Regions from separate parts of the Homo sapiens genome. Here region 2 is linked to region 1. Evidence: fine-mapped expression QTL. A gene starts in region 1. The other region holds a variant in brackets. All regions are shown on one strand. Distances are from middle to middle. Region 1 holds the start of ANXA11 (annexin A11). Region 2 overlaps ANXA11 (annexin A11).

Region 1 (2,909 bases):
GGGGAGGGAGGGCATTCCAGTAAGACAGAGAGCATGAGCTTAGCATGAGCTAAGCCAGAAAGACGGTTCAGGAGAAGTGCATTTCAACTTTAGCTGAACCTTCCACTGCTACTATTTATTGACCCTTACACCTGATTATTTATGACCCAGGCCTGCCTCACACACTTTATGGCTAATGTGGGTGACACCCATCTGGGATACACAAGTGTGGTGCAGCAGTCACCACCTGTTCTGACTGGTCCGTACCTGAGCTCTGTATTGTTATTAAATAAATGAATGCACTGAATCTCACAAGCCTGTGAGGCAGGGATTACTATTACCCCCATTTTACAGATGAAAAACCAAAGCACAGACAATAGTCAAAGAAAAGATAGCAAGGTATGCAGGAGCCTGAAGTAGTGGGCACCCAATGCCAGGGCAACAAACTGCCCTGGCACCTCACCTGGCCTCTCTTATCAGGGAACACCTTGCAGCACAAAGAATGCCTTGAGGAAAGGGGCCCTGTTAATCCCCTGGAATCCCCAACAATTGACTGCCGCATAAAAGGAATGAGGAAAGCAATGAGAGCCAGTGAAGGGTGAGCATACCAGGCCCTGCCCTGCAAACCTAGTCCCTGTTGCGTGGGCAGGGCAGGGCAGGGCAGGGCAGGGGCTCGGCCTCACAGCTCCACTCCATGCCCAGCGCAGAGAACAGAGGGGAGAGCTACCACAAACGCCGAATCTCTACAGAGAGGTCAAGGATTGGAGGGCAGAGACAGAAATGCCCCGGGCTGACTGTTTCCAGCTTGGGCTAGCACTGGCTGGCTTAACTTTTCCCCTCCAAAGTCTCTAGGTAACAAACTTCGCGTGTCTCCTTTAAACCAACAGACCATTTTACCTAAGTCTTAAGGGCCTGGCCTGCACCCATGGGAGATACAAGTCCAGGAATCCCTTCCTGAAACTGGGGATCAAGGTTGGGGAAGGGGCGAAGGCACGCACAGCACCTGGGATGGCTCCCGCATTCCCTCAAACACTGGGGAGAGTTCCTTACAAATAAACTGCAATGGTAGCAGCTCCCAGGAATGTGCGTGCTCCCAGTTTCGGAGGAAAGTTCCTGAAGATAGCCTTCTCTGCTTAATCTCCCCAAGCCTCGCCTAGAAGGGCGCGCGCACCCTGGAGGGCTCCGCAGGGCTGCGGGGCCGGGCCTCCGGCACCCCTCCCGCCACCCGTTGCCTCCTGCGCCCAGGGTCACGGCCCCTGGCCCTACCCAGGCCCAGACTGAGACCCCGACCCCTGAGCCCGGGGGGACGGCGAGTGCACCCCGACCACACATGAGGGAGCAGCCCCAGACGCCGAGGCTGATCTAGGGGGCTGCCAGGCCGACACGGCCCGCCCGCGACCCGCCGACGCCCTCCCCTGCCCCCCACCCCCACGCCTGTAGTGCAACCAGGAAGCCGCAGGGCCGCGCTGGGCTGGGCGCCAGGCAGCCCCGGGCCTCACCCGCGGCGCCGCGGTGCACTGCCGCCGCCTGGTCCCAGGCCCCCAGCCGGCTCGGGACCCTCACTCACCTGGCCACGGGGACTCCGGACGCGAGGGGCGAAATGGGACGTGGGCGGGAGTGGCTCTCTCCGCGGGCGTCCCGGGCGCGGCGCCTGGGTTCTGCCTAGGGGCTGGGTCCCACTCCCGCTCGCGGGGCCCGCGGGGCACTCGGGGCACTGGGGAGCCGCGGGCGCAGCAGCCGTCAGCGCCGGGCGGAAAACTCCGCGGGCGCGGCTGCCCCAGGTGCCAGAGGCAGTGCAAGGGAGGGGCGGGGCCTGAGCGCGGCCCCGCCCCCAAGATGAGGACTGGGCACGGCGGGCCCGCGAGGAGCAGCAGCCTTCCGGCTGCGGAGCTGCTCCAGGAAGTCTCGGGCTCCGGAGGTCCCTCTGCCGCCCCTAACCCCTGCGGCGCCCAGTGCCGCGCAGAGCCGCATTCGCCCTCCTGCAGGGGTGGGCATTTCCTAAGTCCTCTCCAGCCCCGTGTGCGTCGGTTAGTGACTCTCTTTAAGGTCGAGAAAACTTTTTACACTGAAAAGGTCAAACGCATTTCCTTTATAGCAACACTCGGTGGTGGTGGAGGGGGGAAGGTCACGCACAGTATGTGAGGAAGGGAGCGGTCAGTGACTATCGTGGAGAAACCTGACAAACCACCCAGCCGTCAAGGTGACCTCGACAGGGGTAAATCATACTGATTGCATGCACCGCTTGTGGTCTTCCTCCCAAGAACACCTAACCCCACTGTAATCATGAGGAAAACATCACAAATCAATTGAGGCCCTTGCCATATACATGACCAGTACTCCTGAAAACTAGCAAGGTCATCAAAAACAAGGAAAGTCTAGGACACTGTCACAGCCAAGAGGAACCCACGGAGATATAAAAATGACTTAAGATGTTAATAATAGGAAAAGCCCGGGTTTATGAGAATTCCCTGTATTCACACTTTTTCTGTAAATCTAAAGATGTTCTAAAAATAAAGCATATTTTTAAAAGGTCACCCAGGTAATATATGCATATATGGTAGGTATACAATTTTTTTTTTTAATGAGTGGTGGCTGACGCCTGTAATCTCAGCACTTTGGAAGGCCAAGACAGGAGGATGGCTTGAAGACAGGGCTTCCAGACTAGCCTGGGCAACATAGTGAGACCCAGTCTCTAAAAAACTAAAAATAAAAAATTCAAAAAATGAGTAAAAATTGAGATTCACTCTTCCCTCCACTCCCCCAGCCCACTCTTAGGTGTGTCCTTCCAAATATCTCTCTTTAACACTGTGTGTGTGTGTTTACATAAACGTATTGTTTACAAAACGATATTGCAGTACTTTTCTGCAACATGTTTTTTTACTCACTATATCTTGGAGGGTCTTTCCATACAAGTGCTCCTGAACAGACCT
Region 2 (2,909 bases), 50 kb before region 1:
AGGCTTGATCTAGCCTAGTCTCTCTGGATTCTCCCATTTCTTTTTGTTTTTTTCTCATTTGAGACAAGGTCTCGCTCTGTTGTCCAGGCTGGAGTGCAGTGGTGTAATCACAGCTTACTACGGCCTCAATTTCTTGGGCTCTAAGGATCTTCCTGCCTCAGCCTCCAGAGTAGCCGACTATAGGGAATGCACTACAATGCCAGGTAAATTTTTTTTTTTTTTTGAGACAGAGTCTCACTCTGTCCACCCAGGTTGAAGTGCAATGGTGTGATCTCAGCTCACTACAACCTCTGCCTCCTGGGTTCAAGTGATTCTCCTGCCTCAGCATCCTGTGTAGCTGGGATTACAGGAATGTGCCACCATGCCTGGCTAATTTTTGTATTTTTAGTAGAGATGGGGTTTCACCATGTTGGCCAGGCTGGGTCTCGAACTCCTGACCTCAGGTGATCTGCCCGCCTCACCTCCCAAAGTGCTGGGATTACAGCCGTGAGCCACCACGCCTGGCCAAATTTTTTAGTAGAGACAGGGGTCTCGCTGTTGGCTAGGCTAGTCTTGAACTCCTGAGCTCAAGTGATCCTCTCACCTCAGCTTCCCAAAGTCCTTGGATTACAGGCGTGAGCCATAGTGCCTAGTCGATTCTCTCTTTTCTAAACCTCAACGCAGGAGGTTGGAAAAGGAGTGGGTGGAGACCCCTGATGCAAGGTAAGCTCTAGCTTCTGGACATGACACCATAATTCTCAGAAACTCTCTTATGGATTCTCTTCCCTCACACCACCAACCAACGGGCACAGGGTCCCCAGAGACCAGAGCCAGGAGCCCCTTTCAGCCTGGAGGCACCCTGAGGGGAGGCACTGGTCTTGTGACTCTCTGGGTTGTCCCCATCCTTCTCTCTGGCCCCCGCCGAGGGGCACCAGGAATTAGCACACACCCTTCTTCCCTCCTGGGACCTGGGTGAAGGACTGCATTCTTCGCACCACACCTTCAGTGGACTTCACTGCACCTGCAACCAACCAAGATCCCTTTGCCTTTCAGGTGTCTGGGCCTCCTGCCTGGATTTCGGGAACCTCCCTTCCCATGTCCTTACGAGTCCCTGCAAACTAGTGTATGCTCAGGGTTTCCTGCACACAAATCTCTACGTAAGGTTACATGAACTTTCACTGGCTGATAAGGCCAGACCTCTGAGCCACAGGGCAGAATCAAGCAGAAGAAAACAAGTTGGTACCAGGAAGACATTTCCAGACCATTCCAGAGCTGGCTGACTCTTAATGTGGAAACAAGTTTTGGCTACAGACATTCAGGTTTAAGGCACATACCACAAATTACAAGAAGCCCTGTCACTGACAGGGAACTGGCTTTGTTCTCGTGGTTTCTGCAAGGAAGATGGAAGGAATGACTTTCTGGCCCTTTTTTTTTGTTTTTTCTAAAAAGGAGTGAGTTTGGCAGTAACAAAGCTCGTGACACACTCACCAGATGCACAGGCTACCTTCTCAGGCACGCCTCCCTTTCTCTCCTCAGCGAGGACACGGTGCTTCA[C/A]CCACCCAGTCGCCCTCACCAGAAATGTGTATGCAGCAAACAGACTTGTATGCCTCTGTCTGGCAATGACTGTAAGAAAAGAAAATATGCCTCCAAATAAAAATATACAATTACATGACGAAATGAAGCCAAGTCTTAGCCACAGGCAAAGGGGAATGATTGCATGAGTCAGAAAAATGAAACATCTATTTTAGCAGCAAGAGGCTGTGAGGGATGGGGTAGAAAAGGCATCCTGAGAGAGTTCTAGACCGACCCAGGTCCTGTGGCACACTATACGGGTCAGGAGGGGTGGAAGACAGGCCTAAGCTCTAGGACGGTGAATCTCGGGGCTATTTGTGGATTTGTTAGAAACAGACATTCTTTTGGCCTTTTCCTGGCACTGGTGTTGCCGGCAGGTGGGCAGAAGTGAGCCACCAGTCACTGTTCAGTCATTGCCACCACAGATCTTCAGCAGAATCTTCCGGTAATCCCCTGAAGTATCTCCCTGGCCACAGAAACAAGGAAGACATCCGTTAAGGGAGGGACAGTCACTTTCAGCCTTCTGGGTCCTGATATTCAGCCCTGAGCACCCTTATAGGGAGAAAGCCCCACCCTGGGGAATTTTCTCCCACTGCAGGTCCTGCAGCAGGCGTCACAGACCTTAAAAAATGCAGTTCAGCCTTCTCCAGGCCCCCATCAGAAGACGGAAAGCAGCACTCACCCCAGCTATCCACATCAAATGAATACCCACAAAAAAAAATTATAATCATCCTAAAAACCACTTCCCAGGGCTAACCAATATTGCTGTTTTCCCAGTGCATTTATGCTGCCTTAAATTGGGGTTACCAATGTAACGCAACACAGTGTCCTGCTCAGGAAATGCAATCTCCTCACACATGACTGTCCAGTGGAAGGCTCAGACTGCCCAGGTCCCAGGGATCTCTCCTCTGTCTGAGGCCACTACACTTACTCTAAGAGTGCAGGCTCGGCTTGGCTCATTTCTAATCATTTCCTTCCACCCTAAGCAACTTGAGGGCAAGGCATGTGGCTTCTTCCAGATGTCCATAGCTTGCTGGCATGCAGGAGATACTCTGTAATGAATTATTAACTCTCTTTTTTTTTTTGAGACGAAGTCTCACTCTGTCACCAAGACTGAAGTGGAATGGCGTGATCCCAGCTCACTGCAACCTCTGTCTCCCGGGTTCAAGCAATTCTCCTGCCGCAGCCTACCTAATTAGCTGGGATTACAGGCAAGCCCAGCTAATTTTGTATTTTTAGTAGAGACAGGGTTTTACCTTGTTGGCCAGGCTGGTCTCGAACTCCTGACCTCAAATGATCCACCTGCCTCAGCCTCCCAAAGTGCTGGGATTACAGGCGTGAGCCACTGTGCCCAGCCT

What was found. PIP is the estimated chance that this variant, and not a neighbour inherited with it, causes the effect.
Region 2: its variant is fine-mapped to the expression of ANXA11 in whole blood (INTERVAL, PIP 0.94).

The regions. Positions count from the first base shown.
Region 1 is chr10:80,203,797-80,206,705 of GRCh38, forward strand. ANXA11 (annexin A11) reads right to left here and starts at 1,741. Exons shown (of 16, transcript NM_145868.2): 1 at 1,547-1,741. RefSeq lists enhancers at 20-99, 2,739-2,909 and a silencer at 1,085-1,964.
Region 2 is chr10:80,153,896-80,156,804 of GRCh38, forward strand. It overlaps ANXA11 (annexin A11), which reads right to left. Exons shown (of 16, transcript NM_145868.2): 16 at 1-2,017. The coding sequence ends at 1,958. Among named protein-coding and RNA genes, the nearest start is that of PLAC9, 23 kb to the left of the region's middle. The variant C/A (reference allele first, on the strand shown) is at 1,534.